Regions from separate parts of the Homo sapiens genome. Here region 2 is linked to region 1. Evidence: fine-mapped expression QTL. A gene starts in region 1. The other region holds a variant in brackets. All regions are shown on one strand. Distances are from middle to middle. Region 1 holds the start of TRARG1 (trafficking regulator of GLUT4 (SLC2A4) 1 (gene/pseudogene)). Region 2 has its middle 36 kb from the start of TRARG1.

The links.
Region 2: its variant is fine-mapped to the expression of TRARG1 in tibial artery (GTEx, PIP above 0.99).

The regions. Positions count from the first base shown.
Region 1 is chr17:1,274,233-1,284,486 of GRCh38, forward strand. It overlaps TRARG1 (trafficking regulator of GLUT4 (SLC2A4) 1 (gene/pseudogene)), which reads left to right and starts at 5,430. Exons shown (of 3, transcript NM_172367.3): 1 at 5,430-6,156. The coding sequence starts at 5,770.
Region 2 is chr17:1,310,447-1,321,046 of GRCh38, forward strand. No RefSeq gene overlaps it. Among named protein-coding and RNA genes, the nearest start is that of TRARG1, 36 kb to the left of the region's middle. The variant G/A (reference allele first, on the strand shown) is at 5,750.

The DNA of each region.
Region 1 (10,254 bases):
TATGATTATTAAAAAATGGTGGTTTCCACTGAGATCACATGGGTTTGCCCAAATATTGTTTAAAAGGCACAATGATAGGCATGAAATGCATAGAGAAAGGAAAATGCCAGGAAGGAAAGACGCACGTGTAAGACAGAGCCGCCAAGCCATGGCTCACTGTAGCCTTGACCTCCTGGGCTCACGTGATCCTCCCACCTCAGCCTTCCTAGTAGCTGAGAATACAGGCGTGTGCCACCATGCCGGCTAATTTTTGTATTTTTTGTAAAGATGGGGTTTTGCCATGTTGCCCAGGCTGGTCTCAAATACCTGGGGCTCAAGTGATCCTCCTGCCTTAGCCTCCCAAAGTGCTGGCATTACAGGTATGAGGGGCCTGGCCTTAATTTTCTTTCTTTTTTTCTTTCTTTTTTTTTTTTTTTTTTTTTTTTTTGAGATGGAGTCTCGCTCTGTCGCCCAGGCTGGAGTGCAGTGGCGTGATCTTGGCTCACTGCAAGCTCTGCCTCCCGGGTTCACGCCATTCTCCTGCCTCAGCCTCCCGAGTAGCTGGGACTACAGGCGCCCGCCACCACGCCCGGATCATTTTTTTTCATATTTTTAGTAGAGACGGGGTTTCACTGTGTTAGCCAGGATGGTCTCCCGACCTCGTGATCCGCCCGCCTCAGCCTCCCAAAGTGCTGGGATTACAGAAATGAGCCACCGCGCCCGGCCTAATTTTCATTAGAGTCTTCATCATTGTTATTTTAAAAGGTGAAAAATTAGGCCCAGCCAACATGGCGAAACCCCGTCTCCACTAAACAAACAAAAATTAGCCAGGCATGGTGGCAGGAGCCTGTAATCCCAGCTACTTGGGAGGAGGCTGAGGCAGGAGAATCACTTGAAACCCAGAAGGCGGAGGTTGCAGTGAGCCGAGATAGCACCACTGCACTCCAGCCTGGGCAACAGAGTGAGATTTGGTGTCAAAAAAAAAAAAGTGCAAGATCAGTCTCCTTAGGAAAACTCCCAAGAGGAGTAGGGATGTGTTTTGAGCAAGGACAGAAAGGAGACGCATCCCCAGTGGGTTCCTTCAGGTGGACCCGCCTCCCTGGATGTGAAATTCTGGGGTGCTTGCTGATGGGCGCACGATTACGTCAATGTTTATCACACTTTACAAAAGGACGTGCGTGTGTGTGTGTGAATGAGTGTGCGAGTGTGTGTGAGTGAATGTGTGTGGGGGTGACTGTGTGTGTGTGAGTGAGGGTGTGTGAATGTGTGTGGGGGTGAGTGTGTGAGTGTGTGTGTGAGGGTGTGTGAATGTGTGTGGGGGTGAGTGTGTGGGGGTGATTGTGAGGGTGTGTGAATGTGTGTGGGGTGAGTGTGTGAGTGTGTGAGTGTGTGGGGGGTGAGTGTATGAGTGTGTGTGAGTGTGTGGGGTGACTGAGTGTGAGGGTGTGTGAATGTGTGTGGGGCGAGTGTGTGAGTGTGTGAGTGTGTGTGAATGTGTGTGTGGGGGGGGTGTGTGGGTGAGTGTGTGAGTGTGTGTGAGTGTGTGGGGGTGACTGAGGGTGTGTGAATGTGTGTGGGGGTGAGTGTGTGAGTGTGTGAGTGTGTGAGAGTGTGTGGGGTGAGTGTATGAGAGTGTGAGAGTGTGTGTGTGAGAGAGAGTGTGTGAGAGTGTGTGTGTGTGTGTGTGTGTACACAGATGTCAGGAGGCTACTCTCTCACTCCTGGAGCAGAACTCCTGAACGGGGCCCAGGAAGGCTTCAGTGAGAAGAGGAATTGGCTCAATTGCACCTTCCCTGTCAGCCCCGTAGGGTTTCCTGACACCCAGTGAGACGCCAAGGATGAAAGGGCTGTGGGGCAGAGATATGAGGAGGATGTTTCTCCTTCCCCTGGGCTTCGGCTTGAACTTGCTTATGCTTCTGAGGTTTCTTCCCCGCCCCACCTCACCCCCCAAAGGACCCCTCATGGGCAGGTCCACTCCCCCGCACTGTTCACATCCCTGTCCTCTCTCAGCATCCCTCGCATGTAGGGTGCTCAAAGGTTGGGGTCACCGCCGGGAGCCCAAATCCGCTGCTGCCTCCCTCGGGCTCCCTCCACTCTGGTCATTCCCCTCATCACTACCTGCCACGAGGTGGCGCTGAGACTCCAGCATCCCACACGGGCGGAGCAAACGTGGGTCCCTAATTACCCCCGACCCCAGCCCGCCCAGGCAACCTCGTGCCAGGGACTACTCTGGGGACTTCTTAGTTTTTTCTTTCCTCCTTTTATTCCATCAAGAATTTAACATATAGCCGGGTGCGGTGGCTCACGCCTGTTATCCCTGCACTTTGGGAGGCCGAGGTGGGCAGATCACCTGAGGTCAGGAGTTCAAGACTAGCCTGGCCAACATGGCGAAACCCTGTCTCTACTAAAAATACAAAAATTAGCCGGACGTGGTGGTGGATGCCTGTAATCCCAGCTACTCGGGAGGCTGAGGTAGGAGAATCGCTTGAACCCGGGAGGCAGAGGTTGCAGCAAGCCTAGAGCCAAGATCACAACACTGCACTCCAGCCTGGGCAACAGAGCAAGACTCTATCTCGTGAGCCACCGTGCCCAGCCTGAAACCCCAATTTTTATATGAAATGAATTTTTAAAATCATGTGTTGAGGCCGGGCGCGGTGGCTCATGCCTGTAATCCCAGAACTTTGGGAGGCAGAGGCGGGTGAATCACCTGAGTTCAGGAGTTTGGGACCAGCCTGGCCAACATGGTAAAACCCCATCTCTACTAAAAATACAAAAATTAGCCAGGCGTGGTGGTGCATGCCTGTAATCCCAGATACTCAGGAGGCTGAGGCCGGAGAATCGCTTGAACCTGGGAGGCGGAGGTTGCAGTGAGCCGAGATCGCGCCACTGCACTCCAGCTTGGTGACAGAGCGAGATTCTGTCTCAAAAAAAAATTTTTTTAATTTTCTACTAGGCACATTTTTAGAACGTAAAAATAAGCAGATGAAATCAATAATGTTGATTTTAATAACGTTTTATTTATCCCAATATATCCAAAATATTATCCTTTCAATATACAATCAATAAAAAGTATTAATGAGATATTTTCCATTCTTTTTGTGTTTGGACCCAGTTTTCGATGTCTTGTGTGTATTTTACATCTCAACTTGGATGAGTCACATTTCAAGGGCTCGGAAGCCACATGTGGCTAGGGGCTACCGAATTGGGCTGGGTAGCTGTCGTCCCTCCACCCAGGGGTCAGCTCCAAGGCTGTACCATGGCATTCTGCCCAACTGGATACCGGCTTGGAGCCTAAGGGGTCTCAGGGACCCACCTAGCCACCCTGTGAAGGAGCTTTCCTGTTATACAGGATTATCGTATTTCTGGACGCTCATAAGCAGGGGAGCCCAGCTCGCTCCCAGGCCCCACACCTGGCCTCCCTGAGGACTGAGAGGAGGACGAGGCGGCTCCCCAAGGTCTTCATTTTGCAAATAACAATGGGTTTCCTTTATTGAGCACAATTCTCTCTCTCTCTCTCTTTTATTTTTTTGAGAGGAGTCTCACTCTGTCACCCAGGCTGGAGTGTAGTGGCATGATCTCCACTCACTGCAACCTCTGCCTCCCGGGTTCAAGCAATTCTCCTGCCTCAGCCTCCTGAGTAGCTGGGATTACAGGCATGTGCCACCACACCCAGCTAATTTTTGTATTTCTAGTAGAGACGGGGTTTCACCACATTGGTCAGGATGGTCTCAATCTCCTGACCTCGTGATCTGCCCACCTTGGCCTCCCAAAGTGCTGGGATTACAGGCGTGAGCCACCATGCCCAGCCTGAGCAAAATTCTTAATTTAATATAGTCAAATTTATGAAACCTGCAAAGTTCTCCCAAAGCCACAAACATTGTTTTTTATTTGTTTGTTTGTTTGTTTGTTTTTAGTTGGAGTCTCATTCTGTCACCCAGGCTGGAGTGCAGTGGTGCAACCTTGGCTCACTGCAACGTTCGCTTCTTCCCAGGTTCAAGTGATTCTCCTGCCTCAGTCTCCAAAGTAGCTGTGGTTACAGGCACCCACCACCACGCTAATTTTTGTATTTTTAGTAGAGACAGGGTTTTGCCATGATGGCCAGGCTGGTCTCGAACTGCTGACCTCAAGTGATCCACCTGCCTCAGCCTCCCAAAGTGCTGGGATTACAGGCATGAGTCACCGTGCCCGGCTGAGTTTTCAAATCTTATTCATTTCCAGGTGTCCTTTCAGCCCCATATCTCCCACTGAGCTGTGCGGCAGGATCTCGGCTCACTGCAGCCTGGACCTCCCAGGCTCAAGCGATTCTCCTCCCTCAGCCTCCCAAGTAGCTGGGATTACAGGCATGTACCACCACGCCCATATATTTTTTGTATTTTTTGTAGAGATGGGATTTTGCCATGTTGCCCAGGCTGGTGTCAAACTCCTGGGCTAAAGCAGTCCTTCTGCCTCGGCCTCCCGAAGTGCTGGGTTTATGGGCATGAGCCATGGCATCCCGCCTGATCGTAGGATTTTAAACTATTTCATACAACCACTTTCAAACCACACACACACATCCGTGGCGGCTCCAGATCACACTTGTAAAACAATGTAAGGAGGGGCGTCAGGAATATAGAAAGAGATGCCGAGGATAGAGAAGAAGGCAGAGACAGAGGGAGAAAACCTAAGAGAGAACAAAGGAGGAGAATCCGATAGGACAAACAGCCTGAGGCCCTTCCGAGCTGGCATCTGCCCGGAGCAGCTGACCTAGGGGCTCTCTGCCACCGGCTCTTTAGCACCCCAGAATCGTTCTGATGGGCATGAGGTGGACCCAACACTCCCCCTTATCCTCTTCCCCACCTGGTGGTGAGCTACGTAGAAACCTACTCATGGGGCCCTGCTGGTCCATGCAGGGTCCAGGCAGGATCCAGGGGCTACCCTGGTGCTCACATCTCCCCTTCCCTTCTGGAGTCGGGAGCCAGGCTTTGGCCTGGATGCTCCCAGCGGTTGGGGGTCAGGGTCTGGGTGGGATGTAATAGGGGGCCCTAAGGTCCAGCATTTCCCAACAGAAAGAAAGAAGTACACGCTTGCTTTGGAAGAAGCAGCGGAGGGCTCAGTTCCCAGGACAGCTGAAGACACATCCCTGTGGGGCCCAAAGTGTCTTTCTCCCCATCCAGAGACCCTGCCCAGAGGAGCAGGCCCTGGAGCTGCAACAGAAACCGGAGGCTGGCCCAAGTCCCTCTGGGCTGGGCTGGGCTGGGCTGGGCAGAGCTGGGCTGGGCTGGGCTGGGCTGGGGCAGAGGCAAAATCCTGCCAGGGTGGTTCTCTGGGGAGAGGGGAATTGAAAAGGAAAAGCATCACCAAGGAGGGGGAGAGGGAGGGAGGCCGTGTGCGCACACGCACACACACACACACACACACACACACACACACACAGCCTCCCTGACTGAGCCTGAGCCTCCCTGGGAAGAGGCGCATTCTTCTCTCTGCTCTCTGAGCTTTCCGTTGCTTCCCTGCCCATCTGTGCTCTCAGCAGCACCAGCAAAGTTGGCCTCAAACTTGAACAAAGCTGCAGGCTCCAGCGTCTTTCTGGGAGCTCCGCGGGGGCAGCAGGCAGGCCCCAGCCTCTGAACTCAGCTGGCTTGAGAAGCTCAGCCCAACCCTTCCAGCACCCAGCCGGCCCTCCGTCTCCTGAGGGACGCCCCTGCCCCCGACCTGGAGGCCCTCAGTCTGGGCTGGGGAATGGCGCGCTGAGGTCCCTCCAGAGCCCCTTGTCCCAGCCTGGAGCTGCAGCCGCGCAAGGCCCAGGCCCCCATGGCCCACCCGGTGCAGTCCGAGTTTCCTTCAGCACAGGAGCCAGGCTCCGCCGCATTCCTGGACCTGCCGGAGATGGAGATACTCCTCACCAAGGCAGAGAACAAGGATGACAAGACCCTGAATCTGTCCAAGACCCTCTCGGGGCCTCTGGATCTGGAGCAGAACAGCCAGGGCCTACCCTTCAAGGCCATCTCCGAGGGGCACCTGGAGGCCCCACTGCCTCGGTCCCCCTCCCGGGCCAGCTCAAGGAGGGCGTCCTCCATCGCCACCACCTCCTATGCCCAAGACCAAGAAGCCCCCAGAGATTACCTCATCCTGGCCGTCGTCGCCTGCTTCTGCCCCGTCTGGCCCCTCAACCTCATCCCCCTCATCATTTCCATCATGGTAAGTGCTGGTCTTTGTTCCAGGGGCAGGGGCTGGGCCCAGGGGTCGGCAGGTGTTTCCCCCAGGCAGGCACCAAACACTGCCCAGGGTGTGGAGAAGAGAGAGCTGGGAGTGGGGGGCTTGGGGAAGACTCCTTTCCTCACTGGCCTCCTCCTTCCTCTTAGAGAGGGGCCCCGGGGCTGGAAGAGCTCCTGCTCTGTTCTCTCATCTCTGCTTCTGGGCATCAGAGCTCGACTTTGCACCTGTGTCTGCTGGGGAGGGGCCCTCAGGGAGCTGCCTGGCGATACATCCCGCGGGGCAGAAAGATAGCCAGGCTGGGGGTCTTGCTGTTTTAGGAGGGACGGGCGGTCCCAAAGGGTCATCGCCAAGTGGGGCTGTCTCAGCAGAGGTTGCACCGGACGGGGGTCCCAGCGCCCATGTGTCCTCCCAGGCCACCTGGACATGCTCCCAGCCTCTGCCGGCTCCGGTTTCCAAGAGTCGCAGCGGCTTCCCTGCCGTACCCTGAGGGCTCCGGGGCCAGGCTCCCCCGAGGGGCGCACAAAGCGGGGAGAGCTGGCAGACTGCTCCTCCCGAGGCGTGGAGTTCCCTCCGGAGCCCTCTGCAGCTCCACAGCTACGCTGACTTCAGCCTCGTCTTCAGGGCAGGGGAGGTCTGGGTCACAAGTGAAAAATGTGAGAGTCAGAGGGCATGGCCTGCCATGCCCAGGAAGGGGCATGGGGCCGGGTCTGTACTTCCATGGGATTTTGAATGAATTGTCTTAGATTGTCTCCAACCCAAGCCCTTTGGGTAGAGCTACTTATAAAGGATTCCATAGAAAATGTCAGCAGATATTGGCAAGTGACTTTTGAAGTCCAGGAAGAAGCGAGAGTTATGAAAGGGTGGGGAGAGGGAGAAGCAGGGCTCAGCAATGATTTCAGAGTGAGGTCAGGGGCAGGGGGTAGAAAACTGCTGGCCCAGGCTGGTCAGGGCCAGAGGACTAGGTGTGGAGGGGGGTTCCCAAGAGTGACTCCCTGCAGAGTCACCATCACCGAACCCCCAGGAGCTGTCCTCTGAGAAAGCTCCTATTTCTTCAAACCACTCTGTCTACCTCAGGGAGGCCCAGTCTCCCAGCAGGGAAGCCTTCCCCATCCCACCAAAGCCAGTACTACCTTTCAGGACATCAGGGGGCACTGGCAGCCTTCCTGAGTCTGAGGGACTTGGCATGGGCTGTGGAAGCAGGGCCGGGCAGGGGCCTTCCGGGCAGCTCTCTGTGATGCCTGCTGTACCTGGGGACCGCTTGCAGGTAAAGCCAGGACCCAGGGGTGCAGCCAGTGGCTGTGGGCAGGGCCTGCCTCTTGGTTACAGGGAAAGGCCCCAGGAGGGGAAACTGGATTTGGGGAGGGAAGCTACCCAAGGGCTCAGGAGAAAACAGCTGCTGGAATCCATCTCCTGGTGGGGTGGCAGGGTGCAGGCTGGGCAGGACCTGCCTCTGACAAACAGAGCCTAAGCCCAAGGCAATGAGACCACAGAACCTGCCCCAGTGAGTTTCTATATATACATATACATACATGTACATATATGCACATACATGTACATATATGCACACGTGTACATATATGTACATATATACAGATATACACATATGTACATATACATATGTACATATATACACACATATGTACACATATGTACATGTATACACATATATACATATATGTACATATATACGTATATGTGTACACATAAATGCACATATGTACATATACACGCATATATGTACGTATACACGTGCATATATGTACGTATACACGTGCGTATATGTACGTGTACACGTGCGTATATGTACGTATACACGTGCGTATATGTACGTATATGCACGTATATGTACGTATATGTACATATATGCACGTATATGTACATATATGTACGTATATGTACATATGCGTATATATGTACATATATGTACGTATATGTACATATGCGTATATATGTATATATGTACGTATATGTATATATATTTTAAGACAGAGTCTTGCTCTGTCACCCAGGCTGGAGTGCAATGGTGCGATCTCGGCTCACTGCAACCTCTGCCTCCCAGGTTCAAGCAGTTCTCTTGCCTCAGCCTCCTGAGTAGCTGGGATTACAGGAGCCCACCACCACACCTGGCTAATTTTTGTATTTTTAGTAGAGACGGGGTTTTACCATGTTGGCCAGGCTGGTCTTGAACTCCCGACCTCGTGATCCACCCACCTCGGCCTCCGAAAGGGCTGGGATTACAGGTGTGAGCCACTGAACCTGGCCTGTTTCTATATTCTTTAAAGGTTTTGTTTTGTTTTATTTGAAACGGAGCCTCGCTCTGTCGCCCAGGCTGGAGTGCAATGGTGCGATCTTGGCTCACTGCAAACTCCGTCTCCCAGGTTCATGCAATTCTCCTGCCTCAGCCTCCCAAGTAGCTGGCATTACAGGCGCTGGCCACCATGCCTGGCTAATTTTTGTATTTTTAGTAGAGACGGGGTTTCTCCATGTTGGTCAGGCTGGTCTCAAACTCCTGATCTCAGGTGATCCTCCCACCTCGGCCGCCCAAAGTGCTGGGATTACAGGCAAGTGCCCACCACACTCGGCCCCTTTTACGTTTTTGAGTCAGGTGTGATGAATACCAGGCTGGGCACAGGGAATACATTGCTAACCAGACACTGTTGCCAATTCCCCAGAACCTCCAGTCCGGCAGGAAGGAACTCTTAAACAGATTCTTATGACATATTTCCAGAAGTGCCCGTGGTAGACATAAAGTTAAGATAATGAGCTGGGAAAGTCATTCAAACGGCTCTTCTCCCTGGCATTCCCATCTGCAAAATGGGTATAACCTCAATGCCTGCACGAGAGAGCCGTGAGGGGGTGAAATGAGACGGGCCACACCCAGTGCTTCAGAACAACACCAGGAGGGTGTGGGGCTCTTACAGGATAATGGGTACGTAAGTGGCAGCGGGGAGCCTCCCGGGGGAGGCAGGAAGCCATCCTGGTGTTTTAGAAATGGCTTTGTTGAGATATAACTCACATACCATATGATGCACCCATCTAAAGTGTATTCACAGACAGGTGCAACAACCGCAGTCAATTTGGAACATTTGCCTCATCTCCAAAAGAAACCCTGTACCCTGGCCGGGCGCAGTGGCTCATGCCTGTAATCCCAGCACTTTGGGAGGCCGAGGCGGGTGGATCTCCTGAGATCAGGAGTTCGAGACCAGCCTGGCCAACATGGTGCAACCCCATCTCTACTAAAAATACAAAAAAATTAGCCAGGTGTGGTGTCATGTGCCTGCAATCCCAGCTACTCGGGAGGCTGAGGCAGGAGAATCACTTGAACCCTGGAGGCAGAGGTTGCAGTGAGCCGAGATCCAGCCACTATACTCCAGCCTGAGTAACAGAGTGAGATTCTATCTCAAAAAAAATAAAATAAAATAAAGGGCCGGGAGTGGTGGTCATGCCTGTAATCCCAGCACTTTGGGAGGCCGAGGCGGGCAGATCACGAGGTCAGGAGATTGACACCATCCTGGCTAACACGGTGAATCCCCATCTCTACTAAAAATGCAAAAAATTAGCCGGGCATGGTGGCAGTGGGCGCCTGTAGTCCCAGCTACTCAGGAGGCTGAGGCAGGAGAATGGCGTGAATCCGGGAGGCGGAGCTTACAGTGAGCTGAGATGGTGCCACTGCACTCCAGCCTGGGCGACAGAGCAAGATTCTGTCTCAAAAAAAAAAAGAAAGAAAGAAAGAAAGAAAAGAAAGAAAGAAACCCTGTCCCCTTCAGCTGTCACTCTCCATCCCTGCCCCTCCCAGCCCTGAGCAACCACTCATCTCCTTTCTGTTTCTCTAGATCTGCCTATTCTGGACATGAAATGATAAATGGAATCATACAGTATGAGGCCTGTGTTCCTGGCCTCGTTCACTTTGCATGTCGTCTTCAAGCGTCATCCCTGCCGCAGTGCCGTAGCAGCACGCTGTAGGCTTTGCAGCCGAGAGGAGTGTGGTTGGATCTCCATTTTGCTGGATCAGTCTGGGGCAGGGTGAGAGGAGGGGTTGGAGGGGATGAGGCTGGCGTTCAGCAGAGGGGACCCTCGTAG
Region 2 (10,600 bases), 36 kb after region 1:
ACATCGAGCTACACGCTGTCATCAGACAGATCAGGGAAACGGAATGACATCGAGCTACACGCTGTCATCAGACAGATCAGGAAAACGGAATGACATCGAGCTACACGCTGTCATCAGACAGATCAGGAAAACGGAATGACATCGAGCTACACGCTGTCATCAGACAGATCAGGAAAACGGAATGACATCGAGCTACACGCTGTCATCAGACAGATCAGGAAAACGGAATGACATCGAGCTACACGCTGTCATCAGACAGATCAGGAAAACGGAATGACATCGAGCTACACGCTGTCATCAGACAGATCAGGAAAACGGAATGACATCGAGCTACACGCTGTCATCAGACAGATCAGGGAAACGGAATGACATCGAGCTACACGCTGTCATCAGACAGATCAGGAAAACGGAATGACATCGAGCTACACGCTGTCATCAGACAGATCAGGAAAACGGAATGACATCGAGCTACACGCTGTCATCAGACAGATCAGGAAAACGGAATGACATCGAGCTACACGCTGTCATCAGACAGATCAGGGAAACGGAATGACATCGAGCTACACGCTGTCATCAGACAGATCAGGAAAACGGAATGACATCGAGCTACACGCTGTCATCAGACAGATCAGGAAAACGGAATGACATCGAGCTACACGCTGTCATCAGACAGATCAGGAAAACGGAATGACATCGAGCTACACGCTGTCATCAGACAGATCAGGAAAACGGAATGACATCGAGCTACACGCTGTCATCAGACAGATCAGGAAAACGGAATGACATCGAGCTACACGCTGTCATCAGACAGATCAGGAAAACGGAATGACATCGAGCTACACGCTGTCATCAGACAGATCAGGAAAACGGAATGACATCGAGCTACACGCTGTCATCAGACAGATCAGGAAAACGGAATGACATCGAGCTACACGCTGTCATCAGACAGATCAGGAAAACGGAATGACATCGAGCTACACGCTGTCATCAGACAGATCAGGAAAACGGAATGACATCGAGCTACACGCTGTCATCAGACAGATCAGGAAAACGGAATGACATCGAGCTACACGCTGTCATCAGACAGATCAGGAAAACGGAATGACATCGAGCTACACGCTGTCATCAGACAGATCAGGAAAACGGAATGACATCGAGCTACACGCTGTCATCAGACAGTCAGGAAAACCGTGAATTACGTCGAGCTAAACGGAGCATGACAGTAAGATTTCTCAGAGACCTTCATACACCCACGTGCACCATGTACCTCCAAGAAAGGGTGGATTATGCAGTATTTCCTAAATTCGATGGGTTGCCAAGCCCCTTCTTTGAGAAATATTTTCTTGTAAAGCTAAGTTTTAGATTTGCAAACCCAAGTATTTCCGTTATTAAAAACTCTGTATACAAAAAATTATCTGTAAACATCCTTTTAAGACGGCTGGATAATGCATATACATGATAACTTATTTATTTACTTATCCTTTCTCCCATTGTGAGGCATTAAGGTGTCCAGTTTCTCTCTCTCCCATTTTTTTCCTGCCTATAATTTTTGATGTTGTTGTTTTGAGATAGAGTTTCACCCTTGCCCAGGCTGGAGTGCAATGGCGAGATCTTGGCTCACCATAGCCTCCGCCTCCCGGGTTCGAGCGATTCTCCTGCCTCAGCCTCCCAAGTAGGTGGGACTACAGGCATGCACCACCACGCCCGGCTAATTTTTGTATTTTTAGTAGAGACGGGGTTTCACCACGTTGTCCAGGCTGGTCTTGAACTCCTGACCTCAGATGGTCCGCCCGCCTCGGCCTCCCAAAGTGCTGGGATTACAGGCGTGAGCCACTGTGCCCGCTCCCTACCTATAATTTAAACACAGGGTTTAGGCACTGGGGGAGTGAATTCTGAAGGTGCTTCAAAAGCAGCCCTTGCTGTGGAGGCCCCACTGGGTCCACCCACTCCTGAGCCAGGGAGAAGAAGGCAGCCTGGGCTTTGCCTCCTCACTGGGTCAGCTGACTGGGTCGCCATGGCAACCACACAGGCCTGGAAGAGGGAGGGTGCTCCTGGGATGGGGCTAGACGTGGAAGCCCCAGGGCCAGGTGGCTGGGAGCCTGGGACACTGGGGCTGACCAGACCAGATGGCTGGGGGACCCCCTGGGAATGGGGGGCTAAACTGCCTTTGGAAAGTGCCAGATGAACACAGGTCTCAGCCAGAAGCCTCAGACAGAGCCCCTTTCCTTCGTGGTAAGCCATTTGGAGGACCGGTGGCTGTAGCGAGATATCCGGTGAAGAGGCACCACGGATGCTGGAAAATCTGGGTAATGGGATTGAACCTGGATCTAATAATAAGCAAGTGTGATTTGCTCTCACCTGTAAAACCAGACCCCCACAGTCTTCCCAGAACTCATCCATCTGTTGGGGGCTTTGGGAAGTCCCAGCCTCCAATCTGCTCTCTGCCCCAGTAGGAATGCTCTCACCTCCCCAGTGGGAATGCTCTCACCTCCCCAGTGGGAATGCTCTCACCTCGCCAGTGGGAATGCTCTCCCCTCCCCAGTGGGAATGCTCTCACCTCCCCAGTGGGAATGTTCACCTCCCTAGTGGGAATGCTCCCTCCCCAGTGGGAATGCTCTCACCTCTCCAGTGGGAATGCTCTCACCTCTCCAGTGGGAATGCTCTCACCTCCCCAGTGGGAATGTTCCCCTCCCCAGTGGGAATGCTCTCACCTCCCCAGTGGGAATGTTCCCCTCCCCAGTGGGAATGCTCTCACCTCCCCAGTGGGAATGTTCTCACCTCCCCAGTGGGAATGTTCTCACCTCCCCAGTGGGAATGTTCACCTCCCCAGTGGGAATGTTCTCACCTCCCCAGTGGGAATGTTCTCACCTCCCCAGTGGGAATGTTCACCTCCCTAGTGGGAATGCTCCCTCCCCAGTGGGAATGTTCCCCTCCCCAGTGGGAATGCTCTCACCTCCCCAGTGGGAATGTTCTCACCTCCCCAGTGGGAATGTTCACCTCCCCAGTGGGAATGCTCTCACCTCCCCAGTGGGAATGTTCTCATCTCCCCAGTGGGAATGCTCTCACCTCCGCAGTGGGAATGTTCCCTAGTGCAAAGGGCAGATTGGAGGCTGGGTCGCCAGAAGCAGATGAGCCCTCGTTCCTGCCTTCGTATGTGCTGGTGTTTTCAAAGTTTCCCCACTTGTTTTTCACTGGATAGAGGCTTTTCTTCCACAAATTTCTCAATTTGGTTTGAATTTTATGTTCCTCAAGGAAGTGGCAAGAGGGTGCCCTTGTACACAGTTGACTGTCAGGGGAAGGTGTTTCTGGGTGAGAGGAGAGCCTGGTCTTCTTGGGACATTTCCAGGAATGCAGGAGCAAGACTATGGTGCAAGGACCAGGTCCCAGAGGCCCCTGTCTGATGTTGCAACGCTTGCCCTGACTCTCTAGGGCAACCATCATCCGCAAGAACTTTCTGTGCTCCCTGGCCCATGTCAGATTCACTTTGTTTTTTTTTTCCTTCCTCCAAGATGGAGTCTAGCTCTGTTGCCTACGCTGGGGTGCAGTGGTGCGATCTTGGCTCATTGCAACCTCCGCCTCCCGGGTTCAAGCAATTCTCCTGCCTCAGCCTCCTGAGTAGCTGGGATAACAGGCATCTTCCACCACGCCCGGCTAATTTTTGTATTTTTAGTAGAGACGGGGTTTCACCATGTTGGCCAGGATGGTCTCGAACTCCTGACCTCATGGTCTGCCCACCTCGGCCTCCCAAAGTGCTGGGATTACAGGCATGAGCTACCGTGCCCGGCCGAGGTTCACTCTTTAAACTTATTTAAAACAAAACATTATGCTTGCCCTGACTCTCTCGGGCAACCATCCTCCGCAAGAATTTTCTGTGCTCCCCAGCCCATGTGAGATTCACTCTTTTTTTTTTTTTTTTTTTTTTGAGATGGAGTCTCGCTCTGTCACCCAGGCTGGAGTGCAGTGGCACGATCTTGGCTCACTGCAAACTCCGCCTCCCGGGTTCATGCCATTCTCCTGCCTCAGCCTCCCGAATAGCTGGGACTACAGGCACCCACCACTATGCTCGGCTAATTTTTTGTATTTTTAGTAGAGACGGGGTTTCACTGTGTTAGCCAGGATGGTCTGATCTCCTGATGTCGTGATCCACCAGCCTCAGCCTCCCAAAGTGCTGGATACAGGCGTGAAGAGATTCACTCTTTAAACTTATTTAAAACAAAACAGAAACCCCATCTAAGTTCTCTGCACCAAACTGATACCAGCCGTCGCTCATGGCTGGGGGAGTCGCTATGGGACTGGAGGTGAGAAAGGCAGTCTCCAGTTTTTATCCCATATACCTTGTTTCGTTGGAACCTTACACCAAGCATTTATAGATGTATTACCTTTATCATTTATAATTTAATTGAAAAAATAGGAATGTCTGAGGGAGAACAGATGATTCCCTGTAATCCATTAGCTGAAGCAATCAATGTGAAGAGCTGAACATTTTTCTTCCGGGCTTTTAAAAAGAAATTTGTGACATACAGCTATAGTCGCTTTATAATAAAAGGGCTCTAGTAAGTGGCCTTTGCATGGTAGCTGGACTTCGAGGGGCTTTTAAGTAGCAGATCCCTTCTATCTCCCACAAACCTGCCTCCTTAAGATGCATCAGCCTCACCTGACTGAAATGACACCAAAACACCAGGCGGCCTGAGCTGCTGGAGGGGCTGGAAGCCCTGAGAAGCTCCCTCTCCCCGGCCGGGCACGGTGGCTCACGCCTGTAATCCCAGCACTTTGAGAGGCCGAGGCGGGCGGATCATGAGGTCAAGAAATCAAGACCATCCTGGCCAACATGGTGAAACCCCGTCTCTACTAAAAATATAAATATTAGCTGGGTGTGGTGGCACACGCCTGTAGTCCCAGCTATTCGGGAGGCTGAGACAGGGGGATCGCTTGAACCCGGGAGGTGGAGGTTGCAGTGAGCCGAGATCGCGCCATTGCACTCCAGCCTGGTGACAGAGTGAGACTCCATCTCAAAAAAAAAAAGCTTCCTCTCCCTCCAGGACAGAGCTCTCCAGAAAAGCCTCTCCCCCGCTGCCCTCCCCAGGCTCCCGTCTTCCTGACCTTTGCTTTGGATCTGGTTCTTGCTCTTGGCCCTCGCCCTGGAGCTGGATGCTTTGGTCGGGCTCTTGCCTCCAGCGTCTCCTTTGCTATCAGCCTGCCCTCCCATTGCCCCAGTTGGAGGCAGGGCTGCCAGCTCCAGCCTGGCCAGTGGGGAAAATGGATGCGTCTACCTCCTGGTTCCCTGCTGAGGTCAGAGGCCCTTTCCGACCTCCTAAGCCACTCAGGGGGCCCGTGGCTGTACAGGATATCCAGTGAACAGGCACCACGGATGCTGGAAAATCCAGGTAATGGGATTGAACCCGGATCTAAGAACGGGCCAGTGTGATTTGCTCTCACCCTTAAAACCAGACCCCACAGTCTTCCCAGAACTCATCCACCTGTTGGGTCTTTGGGAAGTCCCAGGGCACTGAGGTCTCAGGGTACAGAGGTCCCAGGCTTGGCTCCCTCTGGTTGTTAGCCCGTGCAGACATTCCAGGGTCTACAGACGCTCCCTGGAGAGGGGAACACGAGGTTCCAGGCAGGGCCCGGCTGCCCTCCCAGGGGAACCGAGCTGGAGGAACTCATGTTTTCATCATGGCCCGTGGGAGCCACTCATGGGCTGCTTAAACAGGCAGGAGGTAAACACACACCCCAGGCGACCAAGATCAGC[G/A]GCTCCCTGCACAGCGGGTTTAATTATAAGAGCAACATAATAGCGACAGGACAGAAAGGGGGGGAAATGGCAGGGAAAACCTCTCACCAGCCCACAGCCTCCACATTCCCACTGCCTGGCTGTGAACCTTCTCCCTCCTGGGTGACTTTGCCCAGGGGTGTGGAGTGGGTTTTTTCCTTTCTTAATTTCATTCCAATTGCAAAATTAATACAACGTCATTGCAGCAAACTTGGAAAATGCGAAAAGCCTGAAGAAGAAAACAACAATTTCTCTAAGTGGGTTTTTTTTTTTTTTTTGAGACGGAGTCTGGCTCTGTCACCCAGGCTGGAGCGCAGTGGCGCGATCCTGGCTCACTGCAACCTCCACCTCCCGGGTTCAAGTGATTCTCCTGCCTTAGCCTCCCAAGTAGCTGGAATTACAGGCACTCACCACTGGGCCCGGCTAATGTTTATATTTTTAGTAGAGATGGGGTTTCACCATGTTGGCCAGGCTGGTCTCGAACTCCTGGCCTCAAGTGATCCACCCTCCTCGGCCTCCCAAAGTGCTGGGATTACAGGCGTGAGCCGCCGCGCCCGGCCCCTGGGGTTGGTTTGTGCAGAAGCGAGAACCTGCTCAGGAGCTTGCAGCTGGTAAGAGTGGAATTAGAATGGGAACCAGATATAATAATAAAAGCTTCATCTTTTAGAAAAAGATCAAATCAGAAATATGGGTTACATTTGTAAAAGGCTTTCAATTAAAAAGAGGCTGTGAAGCACATCTTGGGAGGCCTAAAAGTCCTTTTCATTTGGATATTGTTTTATCAAAAGCCCTAGTTTGTGCTGATAAGAAAATGGATTTCACAAGATTGAATCTAACAAAAAGCTTTGGCTAGCTGATTAATTAGGTGAGTCACAGGTCTCCTGGGAGTTCAAAGTCAGGAGTTTAAAGACCCTATGAAAACACATAGGAAGCCGGGCTTGGTGGCTCATGCCTGTAATCCCAACACTTTGGGAGGCCAAAAAGGGTGGATCATGAGGTCAGGAGTTCGAGACCACCCTGGCCAACATAGTGAAACCCTGTCTCTACTAAAAATATAAAATTAGCCAGGCATGGTGGTGGGCACCTGTAATTCCAGTTACTCAGGAGGCTGAGGCAGGAAAATCGCTGGAACCCGGGAGGCGGAGGTTGCAATGAGCCGAGATCGCCCCACTGCACTCCAGCCTGGGCAAAAAGAGTGAAACTCCATTAAAAAAAAAAGAAAGAAAGAAAGAAAAAAGAAAAATGTAGTAATAGTTCACCAATCTCTCCATCACTTCAGATAAACTGGGCCAGGCACAGTGGCTCACACCTGTAATCCCAGAACTTTGGGAGGCCGAGGCAGGAGGATCACTTGAGCCTCAGAGTTTGAGACCAGCCTGGGGAACCCAGGGAGATCCCTTCTCTACAAAAAAATGCAAAAAAATATGAGCCAAGCATAGTGGTGCATACCGTAGTCCCAGCTACTTAGGAGTCTGAGGAGGGAGATTCATTTGAGTCCAGGAGTTGGAGGCTGCAGTGAGCCGTGATTGCGCCACTGCACTCCAGCCTGGGTGACAGAGCAAGACCCTGTCTCAAAAAATACATAAAAACATTAAAAGAATAAAAAATAAAGTTCAGACAGGCTAGGCACAGATGAATTAAATCCACAGTAAGTACTGTATTTTTATTTTCACCAAAAATGTCAATCTTATCCTCAGTGCTAATTTTCTGGGGGAAAACCACGAGCTACGCTGTTCTACTCTCAGAAGCTCCATTTTGCTCACATTCAGCTCTTTCTCTTTTTTTTTTTTTTTTTTTTTTGAGACAGATTCTCACTCTGTTGCCCAGGCTGCAGTGCAGTGGCGCGATCACTGCTCACTGCAACCTCCGCCTCCCGGGTTCAAGCGATTCTCCTGTCTCAGCCTCCCAAGTAGCTGGGATTACAGGTGCCCACCACCACACCCAGCTAATTTTTGTATTTTTAGTAGAGACAGGGTTTCACCATATTGTACAAGCTGGTCTCGAACTCCTCTTGACCTCAGGTGATCCACCTCCCTTGGCCTCCCAAAGTGCTGGGATTACAGGCATGAGCCACTGCGCCTGGCCTCAGCTCACATTTATTGAACATCTACTATGTGCCACTTACTTTCACATACATTTCATTTGACCCATGACAACCTATTTTATTTATGTATTTATTTATTGAAATGGAGTTTCGCTTTTCTTGGCCAGGCTGGAGTGCCACGGGTCGATCTAGGCTCACTGCAACCCCCACCTCCCAGAGTCAAGTGATTCTCCTGCCTCAGCCTCCCAAGTAGCTGGGATTACAGGCATGAGCCACCACGCCCCGCTAATTTCTTGTATTTTTAGTATAGACGGGGTTTCGCCAGGTTGGTCAGGCTGGTCTCGAACTCCCGACCTCAGCTGATTGGCCCGCCTCGGCCTCCCAAAGTGCTGGGATTATAGGCATGAGCCGCCTCGCCCAGCCCACCTTTTGGCTATTGTAAATATAATACTGCTGTGAACATGGGCTTGCAAAGATCTTTTTGAGATCCCGCTTTCAATTCTTCTGGGCATATACCCAGAAGCGGAACTGCTGGATCACATGGTAATTCTATTTTTAACTTTTTGAGGACTTGCCTTACTGTTTTCCATAGTGACTGCACTATTGTGCATTCCAACCGACGGTGCACAGGGGTTCTAGTGCCTCAGCATCCTCACCAGCACTTATTTATTTATTTATTTATTTATTTATTTATTTATTTATTTATTGAGATGGAGTCCCACTCTGTCGCCCAGGCTGGAGTGCAGTGGTGCAATCTCAGCTCACTGCAACCTCCTCCTCCCCAGATTCAAGTGATTCCCCTGCCTCAGCCTCCCGAGTAGTTGGCATTACAGCCGTCCGCCACGACGCCTGGCTGATTTTTGTACCTTTAGTAGAGACGGGGTCTCACCATGTTGGCCAGGCTGGTCTTGAACTCCTGACCTCTAGTGATCCGCCTGCTTTGGCCTCCCAAAGTGCTGGGATTATAGGCGTGAGCCACCGCGCCCAGCCAATACTTTTTTTTTTTGGAGACACGATCTTGCTCTGTTTCTTGGGCTGGAGGGCAGTGGCGTGATCACGGGTCACTGCAGCCTCGACCTCCTGGGCTCAAGCAATCCTCCCACCTCAGCCCTCTGAGTCGCTGGGACCACAGGCACATGCCACCACACCTGACTAATTTTTTATTATTTGTAGAGATGTAGAGCCTTCTGTTTCCCAGGCTCAAGTTCCTGGGCTCAAATGATCTGCCCACATTGGCCTCTCAAAGTGCCAGGATTACAGGTGTGAGCCACCATGCCTGGCCTCTGGTTTGTTGTTTGTTTTTTGAGATGGAATCTCGCTCTGTTGCCCAGGCTGGAGTGCAGTGGCGCTATCTTGGCTCACTGCAACTCCGCCTCCCAGGTTCACGCCATTCTCCTGCCTCAGCCTCCCGAGTAGCTAGGCTACAGGTGCCCACCACCATGCCCAGCTAATTTTTTGTAGTTTTAGTAGAGACAGGGTTTCACCATGTTAGCCAGGGAGGTCTCAATTTCCTGACCTCGTGATCCACCCACCTCGGCCTCTCAAAGTGCTGGGATTACAGGTGTGAGCCACCGCACCTGGCCTCTGTTTTGTTTTTTGATGGTAGCCATTCTAACGGGTATGAGTTATAAGCCTACAGTTTTATATCCTCCTGATTGTCCCCAATAACAGGGAGGATAAAAATGGAATGAACATACGGACACTGATCAGACAGGCATCAGGACCTGCCAGTAAAAGACACTGAAATATTGGCAAGACCAAAATAAATGGAGAGAAATATCAAGACATGAACTCAAGATTCAATATTGTAAAGATGTTCATTCTCCTCCAGTTGATCTATATATTTAGTGTAACGCCAATCAAAATCCAGCAAGTTTTTCTTGGAAGCTGACAAAGTGATTCCACAATTTATATAAAAATGCAAAGGACCAGCCAGGCTCAGTGGCTCACTCCTGTAAGCCCAGCACTTTGGAAGGCAGAGGTGGGAGGATCACCTGAGGTCAGGAGTTCCAGACCAGCCTGGCCAAGATGGTGAATCCCCGACTCTACTGAAAACACAAAAATTAGCCAGACATGGTGGTGCATGCCCCTAATCCCAGCTACTCAGGAGGCTGAGGCAGGAGAATTGCTTGAACCCGGGAGGTGGAGGTTGCAGTGAGCCGAGATCACACCACTGCACTCCAGCCTGGGTGACAGAGCGAGACTCTGTCTCGGAAAAGAAAAAAAAAATGCAAAGGATCAAGAATAGCCAAGATAACTTTGAGGATAAAGAACAAATCCGCAGGACCTATTACCAGATATCAGGACTTATTGTAAAGTTATAGTAATTAAAACAGAGTGGTGTTTTCTCCAGGACAGAAAAATAGACCAATGGAGGGCTGGGGGCAGTGGCTCACGCCTGTAATCCCAGCTACTTGGGAGGCTGACGCAGGAGAATGGTGTAAACCCGGGAGACGGAGCTTGCAGTGAGCCGAGATCACACCACTGCACTCCAGCCTGGGCGACAGAGCGAGACTCCGTCTCAAAAAAAAAAAGAAAAGAAAAATAGACCAATGGAAAAGAATGAGAAATCCAGAAGGAGACTCGGGACAACTGCTTCGTTCATGACAAAATTGGTGCGTCAGTACAGTAAAGAAAGGATGAGGCTAGGCGCAGTGGCTCACGCCTGTAATCCCAGCACTTTGGGAGGCTGAGGCGGGCGGATCGGCTGAGGTCAGGGGTTTGAGACCAGCCTGGCCAACATAGTGAAACCGTGTCTCTACTAAAAATACAAAAATTAGCTGGGCATG